2 separate regions of the Homo sapiens genome follow, and region 2 is linked to region 1. Evidence: fine-mapped expression QTL. Tissue or cell type: atrial appendage. Region 1 holds a variant in brackets; the other region holds the start of a gene. All regions are shown on one strand. Distances are from middle to middle.

Region 1 (8,104 bases):
AGGCGCCTGGCCCGGCGCGCTGTGCCCGGGGCGCCCGCGGAGCCTCCGCCGCGCTCTATGCGCCTCTGCGGGAGCCGCGGGCCCGGGCCATGGCCATAGACCGGCGGCGCGAGGCGGCGGGCGGCGGGCCTGGGCGGCAGCCGGCCCCGGCCGAGGAGAACGGCTCCCTGCCGCCCGGGGACGCGGCGGCCTCGGCGCCCCTCGGGGGACGCGCGGGCCCCGGCGGCGGCGCGGAGATCCAGCCGCTGCCCCCACTGCATCCTGGAGGCGGCCCGCACCCGAGCTGCTGCTCCGCGGCTGCGGCCCCGAGCCTCTTGTTGCTGGACTATGACGGGTCGGTGCTGCCCTTCCTCGGGGGCCTGGGCGGGGGCTATCAGAAGACCCTCGTGCTGCTCACCTGGATCCCGGCGCTGTTCATCGGCTTCAGCCAGTTCTCGGACTCGTTCCTCCTGGACCAGCCCAACTTCTGGTGCCGCGGGGCCGGCAAAGGCACCGAGCTGGCAGGGGTCACCACCACAGGCCGGGGCGGGGACATGGGCAACTGGACCAGCCTCCCCACCACCCCCTTCGCCACTGCCCCCTGGGAGGCTGCGGGCAACCGGAGCAACAGCAGCGGCGCGGACGGAGGCGACACACCACCCCTGCCATCCCCTCCGGACAAGGGGGACAACGCCTCCAACTGTGACTGCCGCGCATGGGACTACGGCATCCGCGCCGGCCTCGTCCAGAACGTGGTCAGCAAGGTAAGGGCCGCAGCCGCCCAGTCCCTCCAACCCTCTCCCTGCAGACCGAGGTCCAAGCCCGAGCCAGCGGGAGAACCGAAGTCCCCAAAGTGGTGGTGCTAGAGTGTGTGTAGGGCATTCCGCATTGGCTTAATCTCCTTCCGTCCCCCAAACCACATGCCTTTACTTGGGTGTAAAGGGAGCACCATAGCCTTTACTAGTTTGCACCCAAACTCCTGTCCCAGTACGCGGATGGAAAGCGCGCCCTTCCCCCACCCTCGGGGCGAGGCAGCTGACCTGTCACCAGCCCCCTCTGGAGGAGTCGGACTGGCGTCGTTCAAGGTCTGCTGGGGGAGTCGGGACCACAGCCCTGTTCTGCCCGGCTAGTTGTCCCTGGGTCTCCCACAAAGCAATAGTCTTCCATCTCGCACTTGATTTTGACACAGGTAAAGCCTACTAAAGAACTGGAGAGCCAGAGAAGCAAAGACTCCTGCAAATCCCCAACCCGCAGCCGATGCTTAGTCCTCCCCAAAGATATCTGACTTTAGGCTTTGCTACCCCAGTGTCTCCTCCCATGTTTTCTCAGCACTTCAGTAAACATCACTACAGTATAGGAAGGACGCGGAGAATATGTCATTTGGGTGTTCCCCGGCCGTCACCGCTCTTACACAGCAGCTGCTTTGGGCTGAGGCACTGAGAACGGGGGTGTGCTTTAGCTGAAACATGCACCTTGTCCTCTGAGTCCTGTAGCTAAAGCTCCCTTGCAGAGGTATTGCGTGGTGTGAAATGTAGCAGAAGGGAGTTGTGAGACAAGTGTGAAGGCCTAAACACAGAGTGGGCAATGGTGGACACTCAATGCCCCTAGACAGCTGTAATTTTATTCTTAACATATAAGAGATATCAAGACATTTGTAGTTTTGCTCCTTGTGTCTAAACTAATTAATTCACATTTTAAAGTAAATACAGACTCTCCTCCACCCCACCCGCTACCCATTCTGGGCTGTTCTGGCAGAGTTTTAAATGCTTTGTCGAAATGTATGAAATTGGACAGTTTTAAATAGTCAATGTGCATGTAACCTCCTCCCCCCGTGTGCATTGGTTAACAGTTGTAGCTCATGGATGTGTAAGATAAACTCTTACATCATCATAATCATTGTTTTAATCTTGTACCAACCTGGCCAGAAATGCTCTGTCCTGTGGGAACTGTCTGACTGAGCTGCCCCTGCTGCCCTGCAAGGTAATGGGGAAGGTCCTTCTAGCTGGGTTCACCTTGATCCCACCCACCTCCTACCCCCTGCTTTCTAAAGGTGTTTCTGTGACTGTTTTCCCTTCACGGAGGGCAATATTTCTTTGTTGGTTTAGCAGCAAAGAAAAATTAAGAACAATGACTATTTAAATCACTGTGTATGTCTGACAGACTGAGGATTTGGCAACATTGTTAAGTATTTCAAGTGTCTTTCTAGAGCAGAGGGAGAATAATGGATCAAAGTGAGTATGTGTGAAGAGCGCTGTGTCCTGGGGTCAAAGTAGAGGTGAACTTGAAAGTGATGAGATGGGATAGAGTGCCATTACCTTGGCAGTGAGGACCCAGGAAACAGCTATTCACACTCAGCCATGCACGGTGGGAGGAGAGAACAAAAATAGTTCTTAAAAGCAGACTATGGAGGCATATTGGAGAGCTGGGCAGTTTTTCTAAATTAGCATTCGAGAGGGTCACAGACAGCCCTCATGTGTGTGGCATGTTTTGGGTGATGCTTGATGACACGTTGCAGTTACTGGGCCAGACTGAGAGGGGAAACCTGGGAACAATAATTAGACACACATTTTCTTATACAGTAAAGCCTAGAAAGGACATATTGATTTTCACAGACAAAAAAGATCTAAATAAAGGACTGCCTTCCCAGTGTTCTGTGTGTTTCAAGCACATAACAAATGCTTCAAAGAGCTTTTCAAGCACATTTTGGCATGTTGGAAGGCAGACTTTTCCTGTGCTGCTGTGTATGTTGAATACTGTATCAGATGCACTAATGTGGGATGTACACTATGGTGAGTGCAGGAGTTCCAGGGGTCAGGTGCTTGTCAGCCCACATCCCAAGTAGAAGCAGAAAGTGGAAGGAGCCTTTGCCTTCTTTCAGTGGATAAAAGCTCAGGGTTTGAGAAGCTGCCTTTTGTGCCTCTTTCCTGCTCTGTTCCATGATCTTTCTCTTGCAAATAAGCCTCATGCTGTCTTCAGCATGTATCCTGTATTTAGTATGTATCCTTTAGCGTGTGTGTGCCCTACAATATATGCACCATTCTGTCCCTAGGTGTCAGAAAGGGAGAGGAAGACAGAAGAGCTACCAGGCACAGTTCTGGACCTCTTTCTCATGTGGCTGCTGGTATCCTAGCACCTACCTACACACGTGAAACTGTCAAGCCAGTTAGAATCCCAGGTTATTGTAGTTAAAAGGGATCTTAGGGCTGACCAGCCTCTCTCGCCTTCTGCATGATATCTCTAACATGAAGTTATCCATCCTAGTTTGAACACTTCCATCGATGGAAAGGGAGTGCTTTGTTAACAAGGCAGCTAGTCCATCCCGTAGTTGCTTTTCCTTGCAGGAAGGCACACTTTGGTAAATAAAACTCAGGTTAACTCATGCCTATTTGTGCCACTTGCTCCTCAGAATAATTTTTTT[T/A]AAAAAATTATTTCTTAAATAAAATGTGTTTTCAATAGCTTCTTTCCTGGCTGAAAAATCTACAGTACTTAAGCTATTCCATACGTGCAAAAATTTGCCATACTTATCGCTCTGGTTGGCATGTGTGTCTCTTAAGCATGGTACCCAGAATCCAACCCAGCCAGGCCCTGTGTGTTCTAACCCAAAGAGGGGATTGATGGATACTGTCCTTCCCCTACTGCAACCTAGAGTTGATTCATTAGGCTTAAACTAGACATGACATACTTCTGCTTCCAGACCATGATCACCAACCCCTCCAATGTTGTTTTCCTGGGAGTGGTGGATGAAATCAGGATTTTCTCAGTTTTAGGCTCATGTAGCATGACCATGACTTAGGTTTCATCTTAACAATTTTGAGTTTCTAGATCTCTCCCGTTAGGATCTTTTTATTTTTTGCCTTGGCCTTTGTATTTGTTATTGGTACCAGAATTTGCATCGCAGAATCTGCAATGCCTTCAAAATAATGACAACATTAATGTCAGTTTCTTTTGTGCAGCCCTTTATAGTTTATAAAACATTTCATATACATTATTTTCTTTGATTAAGAATAATAACCCAAGGTCAGTCTCTAGGCTTTTTTTTTTTTTTTTTTTTTTTTTTTTTTTTTTTTTTTAGACAGCGTCTGGCTCTGTTGCCCAGGCTGGAGTCCAGTGGTACGATATCACAGCTCTCTGAAGCCTCCACCTCCCAGGCTTAAGTGATCTTTCTGCCTCAGCCTCCTGAGTAGCTGGGACTACAGGCATGCACCACCACACCTGGCTCATTTTTATTTTTATTTTTTTGTAGAGAGGGGGGTCTTGCTATATTGCCCAGGCTGGTGTTGAACTCCTGGCCTCAAGCTGTCCTTCTGCCTCGGCCTCCCAAAGTGTTAGGATTATAGGTGTGAGCCACCAGCCAGACTAATAGCAGGTGCCAATCATGGATTTTAAGTCAGTGAACACACAGTTGAGTGTGCCATGTGTTCTGTACAAGAACCAGGTACAGATGCTCCTCTGCTTCGGATGGTGTTGTGTCTTGTGTCCAGATAAACCCCTCATCAGTTGGAAATATTGAAAGTGGAAAATACATTTAATACACCTAACCTACTGAATATGCTGGCTTAGCCCAGCCTACCTCAGATGTGCTGAGAACACTCACATTAGCCCACAGTTGGGCAGAATCATCTCACACAAAGTCTGTTTTATAATGTGTTGAATATCTCGTGTGACTTACGGAATACTGTACTGAAAGTGAAAAAGAGAATGGTTGTGTACTTCAGATACTCACACAACCATCGTGTTTTTCACTTCTGGTGAATAAAGCAGCCCTTATCGATACAGTTTCTACTGAATGTGTATCGTGTTCACACCATCATCAAGTCAAAAAATCATCAAGTTGAACCGTTTTAAGCCGGGGACCATCTGTGTTCAACTTTCTGATGACTTTCACAAGCTCTGCATTTTATCTCCCAGCTCTGTTGTAAGGTATTGTCAGTGCCTTGCAGAAAAGAATCAAATTCCTTCCAAGTGACATAGACAGCAAGTTTTGGAGAGCTAAGGACAAACAGGGCCGCAGCTCAGCTCAGTTGGCTTGCTTCTCCCACACCAGCATTCCCTGCGCAGCCCAAGTTCTCAGATACTTCTGAGATCTTAGTCAACAAAGTTAAAACAAAACAAAACAAAACAAAAAAACAAAGACTCCATGGACTTGCAAATATTGCGCTTAATGATTTGCACAGGCTGGGTGCAGTGGCTCACGCCTGTAATCCCAGCACTTTGGGAGGCCTAGGTGGATGGATCATTTGAGATTAGGAGTTTGAGACCAGCCTGGCCAACATGGTGAGCCCTCATCTCTACTAAAAATAGAAAAATTAGCTGGGCGTGGTGGCGCACGCCTCTAATCCCAGCTACTAGGGAGGCTGAGGCAGGAGAGTCCCTCAAGCCTGGGAGTGAGAGGTTGCAGTGAGCGAGATCGCGCCACTGCACTCCAGTCCGGGCGACAGAGTGAGACCCTGTCTCAAAAAATAATAATAATTTGCACAGTGTATCCTGCATTGTTCTGACTGAATCTGTTGGTTTCTAATACTCAGCACTTTCTTGAGTAATCTCTAGAACTTTTGCCAATAATCAATGCCAGCTGAACTTGCCCCAATTTTTTCTGTATTTGAAATGTAGGATGTTTGTCCAGCTCCAATCTTCTGGTAGCATTTCCTCTGTTCTCATGAATTTGCAAAGATTTCTGACCTTTATCCTGAAAGTTGCTTAAATATCCTGGGAAGTAATTTGTATCCTTTTTCTAGGGCTAAAGAGTAGAAGTTATTTAAAGTGACTTTAAGTACAATTTAATTAAGACTAGAAATAATTATATCATTGCAACAGTAACACTTTTAAAAATAGCCCACAATTCCATGATCCTAGTTATCATATGATGACTAGTTTTCACTTTTGAAATGCCTTACACACAAACCTGTTTTCACAGTTCTAATCAAAGTGTTTATTTAATGGAATCTACTATTTTCTTGACACCTCATCAAAAGAATTTGTCCATTTCTTCCGAAACATTTTAAATGCATGATATTTTTGCTGATTTATTAAAAGTTCTTAAATTCTTTTCCTAATACCGAACTGACGGCCGGGCACAGTGGCTCACGCCTGTAATGCCAGCACTTTGGGAGGCCGAGGCGGGCGGATCACGAGGTCAGGAGTTCCAGACCAGCCTGGCCAACATAGTGAAACCCCATCTCTACTAAAAATACAAAAATTAGCCGGGCATGGTGGTTTACGTCTGTATTCCCAGCTACTCGGGAGGCTGAGGTAGGAGAATCGCTTGAACCTGGGAGGCGGAGGTTGCGGTGAGCCGAGATCACTCCACTGCACTCCAGCCTGAGCAACAGAGCGAGACTCCGTCTCAAAAAAAAATAATAAAATACTGAACTGACTACCATGAGGTCATCCCAGTGGTGGCTTTTGTCTAGTATATGCAACAACAGTGGATATCTTCATGCATATCTATTTTTAAAAATTGACTATAGTAGGTAATACATGTACATTGTACAGAAAGCATAGCATAAAAGTAACATTTCTTTCTGTCTCTGCCCCCAGTTTCCCTCTTCAGAAGCAACCATGGTTACCAGTTTCTCACATCCCCTTCCAGAAATGTTCTACTTTCATTTACATATTTTGTCTCAGAAACACTAGCGTATCCGAAACACTGTTTTTTCACTTATGCTGGAGATGAATACATCAGTACATAGAGATACTCATTCTTTTTTATGTCTGCATAGTATTCCATTGTCAGACTGGACTGCCATTTATTTAACTAATCACTTACCGAGGAAGCATTAAGTTTGTCTCCAGTCTTTGCTGTTATATTCACAATATATCACGAAATCTTGGCATGCACAGACATTTGCACACGTGTAAGAAATTTTTAGAAGTGGGAGGGTGAAAGTAGGCTGCATTTTTATGTTAATACTGTCAGAGTGTTTTCTGTAGAAATCTTAGCTATGCACAATTATACTAATAATATGTGTGGTTCTGTTCCCTACACCCTCCCTGACCCAGGGGATTATCAAATCTTTACATATTTTCTAGTTTGATGTGCAAAAAATTGTATTTGGTGGTGGTTGTGACTTGCATTTCTCTTGTTATGAAGGAAGTTAAACATCTTTTTGAAAGTTTTTGAGCCATCCATATTTCCTGTTCTTTGAACAGTCTCTTCATTTCCTTTGCCTTTATGTGTGTGTATATGCTGTGAGAAGCATTATTTTCTTATGTATTTATAGGTACACTTTATGTATGATGTAAATTAACCCTTCTGGATGACTTGTAACCATTTTCCTCGAGTTTGCTGTTTGGTTTTTTAAATTTTGTACATGATATTTTTGTTATGTAGAAACGTATGGTTTGGTTAGAGTTGTATGAATTAATCTTCTTTTTTATGATTTCTTATGTTAGCTTTAAGGCTTGGAAGATTCCTGGAAGACTGGGGGGAAATCCTATGTTTTCTTCTAACATTTTTATGATCTTATAACTTCTTTATTTTGGGGTTGGAGATACCTGTTTTGCTTTTCTGAGCTATTAGGATAAATTGCTAGAAAGGTCAGAGGATATAACCAGCATTTCATGCAGACGTTGACTTGCTTGTAACAACGTCCTAAACATTTAGTTTGGCAGTGGCCCTTATTAATGTAAGGATTAGAGGCTAGCCAGCTGTTAAGCAGCCTTTCCACCTCCGTTTGGGAGATAGCTGTCTTCCCAGGTCACAGGTCTCCCTTTCCTTCTTCATCTTCCTGTTCTGAACCATCTGCAGATCTCTCCCTCTCCCTCTCCGTCTCCCTCTGCCTCTCTGTAGCAACATTTTCTGCAGGTGCCTTTACTTTGGCCTTTAGTCCAAGATAGGATTGAGTCGAAAGTTGGTGTCATTTAAAAACATGGTGGGGGCTGGGCGCGGTTGCTCACGCCTGTAATCCCAGCACTTTGGGAGGCCGAGGTGGGCGGATCACGAGGTCAGGAGTTCAAGACCATCCTGGCCAACGTGGTGAAACCCCGTCTCTACTAAACATACAAAAAAATTAGGAGGGCGTGGTGGCGGGCGCCTGTAGTCCCAGCTACTCGGGAGGCTGAGGCAGGAGAATGGCGTGAACTCGGGAGGCGGAGCTTGCAGTGAGCGGAGATCACAACACTGCAC
Region 2 (8,090 bases), 450 kb after region 1:
AGCTCCCTCTGGCTTTGTCGCTGGCTCTCTTCCCAGCTGGACTGTGGGATGATGTTAGGGCTCAGTCAGCCTTCTTGTCGTCCTGGGGATGGAGGCTATGCACCAAGGGCAGGGAGCAGAAATACCAAAGGAACCTGGATTCCCGGGGCTCTCTTGGGGCTGCAAGATGGTGGTGGATTGGCAACTGCAGATATTTGTGTTTATGTATTTTCCATGCAGAAACATCTACAATGGCACTGAGTCTGTAGCGAGGGCCATGCACTGTCTGTCTGAAAGTGCTCCAGGCACAGGCTTTGTGTCCAAGTACCTTGCTGTGTTTAAGGTACATCACAGCACCGGAGAATGTGGGAGAGGTCACATTCATCCCTTCAAAGCGCAGGGAGGTTCCTATTCTGACACCAGCAACACTTACAAGAATGAACCTAAAGCTGGGCAGTGAGGAAGGAAAGGAAAAAGAAAGTTTATGAATACAGGTAGTATTGTTTGAACCGGTAAGTTGCACTATAAATCACAATAAAAGATAGTCTGTATATCACTAAAACAGAAGAGTTGGCCGCCCTGAGGATGAGGCCTTTGGGTCTCCAGGCATTTGCCAGCTCTCCTAGCCTAGGGGCAGGGGCGCCTGCACAGCCCTCTGCTTTTCCTAGAATTCTCAGCAGCGAGCATGTGTCAGGGAGAGACATGGTTGTCTTAGCACTGAGGCTGAAATCCTGGATGTTCTTGGGAGGGCAGTGATTGTGAAGAACAAGTTACTTGTCTAGTTCCTGGGGGTCACTCCTCAAAGCCTCCCGATGAGGCAAGTTTACAGGATCCATGCTCCCTGAGCCAGCAGTGACACCCACACTTGGCAGTGAGAAGTGGGGCTGTAACTTACAGGGTGAGCCAAAATGGCGGGTCTGGAAAGGGATTATCTTAAAGGAAAAAGAGAGGAGAGTGAGTGACTTCATCATTAGCTGGGAGGCTCTACAGTGCCCTGGTGGACAGTCACTGCCTGGAGGTGACTTTGTAGAAAGCAAACTTTGGCTATCACAATGCATAGGGAGGCCTGGCAAAGCCCAGGGAAGCAGAAGGCCCAGCACTTTGAGAGGCTGAGGCAGGAGATCACTTGAGCCTAGGAATTTGAGACCAGCCCGGGCAACATAGTGAGATCCCATCTCTACCAAAGATTTTTAAAAATTAGCCAGGTGTGGTGGTGCATGCCTGTAATCCCAGCTACTCAGGGGGCTGAGATTAGAGGATTGCTCCACTCCAGACTGGGTGACAGAGTTAGGCTCTGTTTCAAGAAAAAAGAGAAAGTAAAAGAAAAAAAAGAAAGCCTGTTTGGCTGAACTGTGGTTCAAAAAAAAAAAGAGTGGATGGTGGTAGATGCAGTCAGGGAGGTGGGAGGGGTCTGACCTGACCCCTCCTAGGGTAGGGGTGAGGATTTTATTCTAAGCCTGACAGAAAGCCCTTGGAGCCTCTTAAGCTGGAGAGTAATATGGAATGATCGCCAGTTGTGGTGGCTCACACCTGTAATCCCAGCATTTTGGGGGGCCGAGGTGGGGGGATCACCTGAGGTCAGGAGTTTGAAACCAGCCTGGTCAATGTGGCAAAACACCATCTCTACTAAAAAATACAAAAATTATCCGGGTATGGTGGCATGTGCCTGTAGTCCCAGCTACTTGGGAGGCTGAGGCAGGAGAATCACTTGAACCTGGGAGGTGGAGGTTGCAGTGAGTCAAGATTGTGCCATTGCACTCCAGCCTGGGCAACAGAGCAAGACTCTGTCTCAAAAAAGAAAAAGAAAATAGAGTGATATGAAATGATTTACCTTTGTAAATGTTGCCAGTGTTTCTGCAGACTGGGGGAACACCTTATCCTGATTCCCAAAGTGATTGCCCGAAATCATGTTGTTTGTATGAAATGCTTCATTTTCACTCCTCTAGACAGGGCATCCATTCTTCAGTGTCCCCAGCTCACCACTCCCTTTTGTATTCCTTGGCCCAGTTTACATGTTTACATCATATGGCTGGTGGCATGTGAGTTTGTGACTTCTGTCTCCATCCCCCTAGCGGTTAAGAATAAGAATCTGAGGTCCAAGAGCTGAGTGACTAACTCAGCTCTATTTGAGTGACTCAGCTCTATTTTCTATACTATTTGAAATAGTGGGGAAAGACTCCAACACAGGCTCTTGACTTGCAGTTGTGTCACTGTTCACTTGACCCCAGGCACTTCCCTTGGCACCCCATCCACAGCAGTGACAGTTCTCTCCCTTTTTAGAAACTATGCACCTACCCAGGCCTACAGGAAAAAAGAGCCATGTGGTTATTAAACTGTATATACCAGGTCAAGTGGGCTCTGATATTTTTGACGTGTACATTATTTAATTTTAAGAAGTTATTTTATAATGTTTTCACTTTTTTTCCTGTGCCTCTTTCCATGTGGACAGTCCCCGTGCTGGGCATTCTAACAGACAACATCTCACAGTGTATTCAGTGTGTATTCATGCGGCAGCTAAACCATTGCCTGCATACCCTTTTGTGCCCATTTTCCTATTTCTGGGACCTTAGGTTATTTCCATTTTTTTCCCAAAACTATAAACAGCACAGCTAGAAGTATATATTATTTAATACTTGTTCCTTTTCATGTATTTCTTTGGCTGTGATCTTCGGAGATTAAAGGTTAAACTGATTTATTTTTTCAGAGATTAAAGGTTAAAGAAGCTGATTTTTGGCCGGGCGCAGTGGTTCATTAATCCCAGCACTCTGGGAGGCCGAGGCAGGCGGATCACCTGAGGTCAGGAGTTTGAGACCAGCCTGACTAATATGGTGAAACTCCATTTCTACTAAAAATACCAAAAATTAGCTGGGTGTAGTGGCACGCACCTGTAATCCCAGCTACTCGGGAGACTGAGGCAGGAGAATAGCTTGAACCCGGGAGGCAGAGGTTGCAGTGAGCTGAGATTGTGCCATTGCACTCCAGCTTGGGCAATAAGAGTGAAACTCCATCTCAAAAAAAAAAAAAAAAGAAAAAGAAAGGAAGAAGAATGAGTTCAAGACCAGCCTGGCCAATATGGTGAAACTCCCACCTGTACTAAAAATACAAAAATTAGCCGGGCATGGTGGCAGGCGCCTGTAATCCCAGCTACTCAAGGGGCTGAGGGGGGAGAATCGCTTGAACCTGGAAGGCAGAGGTTGCAGTGAGCTGAGATTGCCCCACTGCACTCCAGCCTGGGCAACAGAGTGAGACTCTTCTAAAAAAAAAAGAAAAAAGAAAAAGAGGGCCGGGAGCAGTGGCTCACGCCTGCAATCCCAGCACTTTGGGAGGCCCAGGCGGGCGGATCACGAGGTCAGGAGTTTGAGACCAGCCTGACCAACATGAAACCCGTCTCTACTAAACATACAAAAAATTAGCCAGGCGTGGTGGCACGCCCCTATAATCCCAGGTACTCGGGAGGCTGAGGCAGGAGAATTGCTTGAACCCGGGAGGCGGAGGTTGCAGTGAGCCGAAATCGTGCCACTGCACTCCAGCCTGGGCGACAGAGTGAGACTCCGTCTCGGGGAAAAAAAAAAAAGCTGATTTTTTTTTTTCCCAGAGAGATTATAGGTTAGAGAAGCTGATTTTTCATTTTTTCCACAGTGCCACAATGTCCTTGACAAAGGCAGCGCAAACCAGTGGTTCAGCCGCGCCTTCAGGGCAGCGCTGGGCAGCGCACGGGCCTAAACCCCGGTACCCCCTTTACAGACTGACCTTGGGCCCGCTGATTCCTACTTGTAATATGACTATGATACCAGCACCCGCTCCATAGGGTTGAGGGCAGATTCCACCAGACGATTCGACACCGGGACCCTGCGTGTGGGCGCGTTCCGTGAGAGCCAAGCACGATCCTATGTACAGAATGGTCCCTGGCCCGGGCGCGACGACCCACAGGGCCATATGGCCGGCCAGCTGAAATCCCTGAGAGCGTTCTGGCCGTCCAGTCCGGGAACTGTCCTTCCCAAGTCCCCCGGTCCCCGACAGGGGATCACTCACCTTCCGACCAGCGCACTCCCCAGTAGGAGCCGCAGGACTGGGACCCGCGTCTCCCCAAGGACCGCTCTAGGAGTTGCGCCAGGTTCCGGCCGCACTGGACCGCGCACTCGCTGACGCCTGGAGGGCGGGAGCGCTGCGACTGCGCCCCCGGGGACCACGGACCGGTGCCAACCTAAGCAGCCCGGAACCTGCCCCGCGCCGCGGGACTGCAGGCCTCTTTACGCAGCGCGCCTACCACGCCGAGGCCCCGCCCACTCACCCGCCCCGCCCGTGAGCCCCGCCCACACCCCGCCCCGCCCCCGAGCCCCGCCCACTCCCCGCCCCGGCGGTGCGGTGCCTCGCTCCGCGCCCGTCCGCGCCCAGGCCCCGCCTCCACAGCGGCGTCCCGCCCCACCCACACCTCGCCTCGGCCCCTAAGCTCCGCCCACTCCCCGCCCCTGAGGTCCATCTGGGGCCTCGCCCGGCGATCTGGGACTGGGGAGGACCCTGCTGACTTCCAGGCAGGTGGAAACTGGATTGATAGAAATCCAGCGCGGGGAGGCTGTGCTGAGAGGAGGGACGCCCCTGCCCTGCGCCTCCCGCTCCCCATCTCTGGCTGGTATCCCGGTTACAGAATGAGGGTCCGTGGTGCAACAGAAAGAATGAGCCACTGATACACTCATCAGCTTGCTCGGATCTCCCGGGGAGTTACGCTGGTGAGAGAAACCAGTCCCAAAGGTCACTCACCGACGGCGCCGCTGGTGTACTGGTATTATGCAAGATGCCCTCGCAAAGGTCACGCACGGATGGTTCATTTATCCAAAGACCAAAGGAGAGAAATGCAGGACTCATTAGCAGTGCCCAGGAGATAGGGGGGCGGGTGGGTGTGGCTATAAAAACGCAACCCGGGGGGTGCCTGTGAAGGAAATCTGCGTCCCGCGGAACGCAACACGCTGTTGGGATACTGGATTGTCCTTTGTGAGATGCCACTATCGGGGGAAACCGGATGGCTTCACAGAAAAAGTTCGTTTAAAGGAAAATGGTTTAAGGCCAAGGAAATACCTAGAAAACGGAAAGTCTTGAAACCAGAGCCGGTGGGGAGTTATGGGGGGCGGTGCTGGTGAACAGTTTGGGCCGACTTTTTCCAGCGCTTGCTGGCTTCTGCCACCTCATTTGGCAGTCACCTGCCACTGTGACCTCCCCAAGTCCCTTCTCCAAACTCAATTCCTTGATTTCTGGTGTCCCGGGATGGCCCCACTCCAACAATAGAGCAGAAGGAAGGAAGGTTTCCCCTGTGTTTAGAACGTTCCTAACGAAAATAACTGCAACTCTTGATTGTACCTCCTGAGGGTCGTTGGGACTTTCCCTCTCAGACATTTATTGGTTCATTCATTCGTTCATTTTGCTGTAACTCACAGTGGCCCTCCCCATCCTAAGGTGCACTGCTGGGATTGGTCTATGTGCTGATGATGTTCTCCTTGTCTTCAGAGGTGAGAATGTGCCCTCCCTCCGAGATGCCCTCTTGCCCCTGAGCTCCCCAGCAGGGAATAGGCTGCCTTGTCTTGTGAGTCCAGATCCTGGGAACAACTTTCATTTAGGAATGGAACAGCAGGTCCTGGGAGCATTGGCGCCTGCGCGCCCATCATGCGCGTGTGTGATGCAACATCACCACCTTGTGGCAGCGAGGAGCTATCACAACGTGGACTGAGCAAGTTGCTCCCTGCTTGGGGTTGGGAGCTGGACTGGCCTAGTTCCCTGGGTCTTTTGTAACCTGAATGGTGGTAGATTCCAGGACAGTTCAGTAGGAGCCCATCCTCAAAAGGAAAATAACAGAACTTCCTGCTAATCTGGTATTGGGGCTGAGCAATTACTGCACACTAATGAGATTGACCATAATTGCATCCTGAGTTTGAGGAGGAGGTCATGCTACTAAAATGAGATAAAATCAGCTCCAACGACAAACATCATCTCTGGGGGTTTCCAGATTCTCACTTTTCATTTAATCCCCAGCCTTAGTGGAAAGCAAGAGTCGGAGTCGGCATTCTGGGCAGGGAGGCAGGTGAGGCAGGTACACATCTCCTCTTCTCCCCAACGCCCCATGTTTCTATTTCTGAATAAAATGAACCATCATGGTGCTAAGGTAAAGCTAAACTAGCTGAGCCACCTCCTGAAGAGGTCATTGCTTTTGTTTTTATTTAATGAGATTTCTTTCCCTTCTGCTACCAGCATCCCTATTCCTTTGGAAAACTGCTTCTTCATAATAACATAAAGGTTTTGGATTTTTTGTTTTGTTTTTTGGGTAGCAAAATCTGTATAACATGAAATTTTCTATTTTCACCATTTTAAGTGTACAATTCAGTGGCATAAATTACCTTTAGAGTGCTGTGCAACCATTACAACTATTTATTTTCAAAACGTTTTCATCATCCCAAATAGAAACACTTGGGTCAGGGGCCATAGATCACGCCTGTAATCCCAGCACTTTGGGAGGCAGAGGCATGCAGATCACCTGAGGTCAAAAGTTTGAGACCAGCCTGGCCAACATGGCGAAACCCCATCTCTACAAAAATTTGCCAGGTGGTGTACACCTGTAATCCCAGCTACTCAGAGGCTGAGGCAGGAGAATTGCTTGAACCCAGGAGGCGGAGGCTGCAGTGAGCTGAGATCGTGGCACTGCACTCCAGCCTGGATGACAGAGCGAGACCCTGTCTCAAACAAAAACAAAAACAAATAGAAACACTGCACTCATTGGATAATAAATCCCCATTCTCCCCTCCTTCCACTCCTGGTAGCCTCTAATCTACTTTCTGTCTCCATGAATTTGTCTATTGCATGTATTTCATATAAGTGGAATCCTACAAGATGTGGCCTTTTCACTAAGCTTTTTTTCCTCAAAAACCTTGTTGCTGAGTTTCATCCATGTTGTAGTATGCATCAGAACTTCATTCCTTTTTATGGCCGAATAATAGAAAAATGTGTATACCGCCTGGCCAACGTGGGGAAACCCCATCTCTACTAAAAACACAAAAATTAGCTGGGCATGGTGGTGTGCACCTGTAGTCCCAGCTACTCGGGAGGCTGAGGCAGGAGAATCACTTGAACCCAGGAGGCAGAGGTGGCGGTGAGCTGAGATTGTGTCATTGCACTCAAGCCTGGGCAACAAGAGCAAGACTGACAGAAAGAAAAGAAAGAAGAAAGAGAGAAAGAAAAAGAAAGGAAGGAAGGAAGGAAGGAAGGAAGGAAGGAAGGAAGGAAGGAAGGAAGGAAGGAAGGAAGGGTACCAGGCATTGTTTATCCACTCATCTGTTGTTTGACTATTGTGAATAATATTGCAATGATTATTGGTGTACAAGTATCTGTTTCAGTCCCTGTGTTCAATAATTTTGGTTATACACCTTGGAGTGGAATTGTCGGTATTACAATTCTATGGTCATTCTATGTTTAGCTTTCTGAGGAACAGCCAAACTGTTTTCCACAGCGTCTACACCATTTCACATTTTCACCAACAATGTACACAGGTTCCAACTTCTCTACATTCTCACGCACATTTGTTATGTTTCTTTTTTTTCCCTCTAAATTATAGCCATCCTAGCAAGTGCGAAGTGGTATCTCATTGTGGTTTTGATTTGCATTTCCCTAAGGACTAATGACTTTGAGCATCTTTTCATGTGCTTACTGGCCATTTGTATACCTTCCTTGGAGAAATGTCTATTCAAGTCCTTTGTTGACCATTTAATTGGGTTGTTTGTCTATTTGTTGTTGAGTTGTAGGTTTTTTGTTTGTTTTTTGAGACGGAGTTTTGCTCTTGTTGCCCAGGCTGGAGTGCAATGGCGAGATCTCGGCTCACCGCAACCTCCGCCTCCTGGGTTCAAGTGATTCTTATGCCTCAGCCTCCCGAGTAGCTGGGATTACGGGAATACGCCACCACGCCTGGCTAATTTTATATTTTTAGTAGAGACAGGGTTTCTCCATGTTGGTCAGCCTGGTCTCAAACTCCCGACCTTAGGTGATCCGCCCACGTCGGCCTCCCAAAGTGCTGGGATTACAGGCGTGAGCCACCGCACCCGGCCGAGTTGTAGGTGTTCTTTACATATTCTGGA

What was found. PIP is the estimated chance that this variant, and not a neighbour inherited with it, causes the effect.
Region 2: it holds the start of NQO2, and the variant in region 1 is fine-mapped to the expression of NQO2 in atrial appendage (GTEx, PIP 0.96).

What each region holds. Positions count from the first base shown.
Region 1 is chr6:3,448,545-3,456,648 of GRCh38, reverse strand. It overlaps SLC22A23 (solute carrier family 22 member 23), which reads left to right. Exons shown (of 10, transcript NM_015482.2): 1 at 1-743. The coding sequence starts at 90. It overlaps LOC643327 (a long non-coding RNA gene), which reads right to left and starts at 946. Exons shown (of 2, transcript NR_147844.1): 1 at 398-946. The variant T/A (reference allele first, on the strand shown) is at 3,398.
Region 2 is chr6:2,996,007-3,004,096 of GRCh38, reverse strand. It overlaps NQO2 (N-ribosyldihydronicotinamide:quinone dehydrogenase 2), which reads right to left and starts at 4,203. Exons shown (of 7, transcript NM_000904.6): 1 at 4,012-4,203. NQO2-AS1 (NQO2 antisense RNA 1) reads left to right here and starts at 4,422. Exons shown (of 2, transcript NR_186367.1): 1 at 4,422-4,706. RefSeq lists a silencer at 4,205-4,454.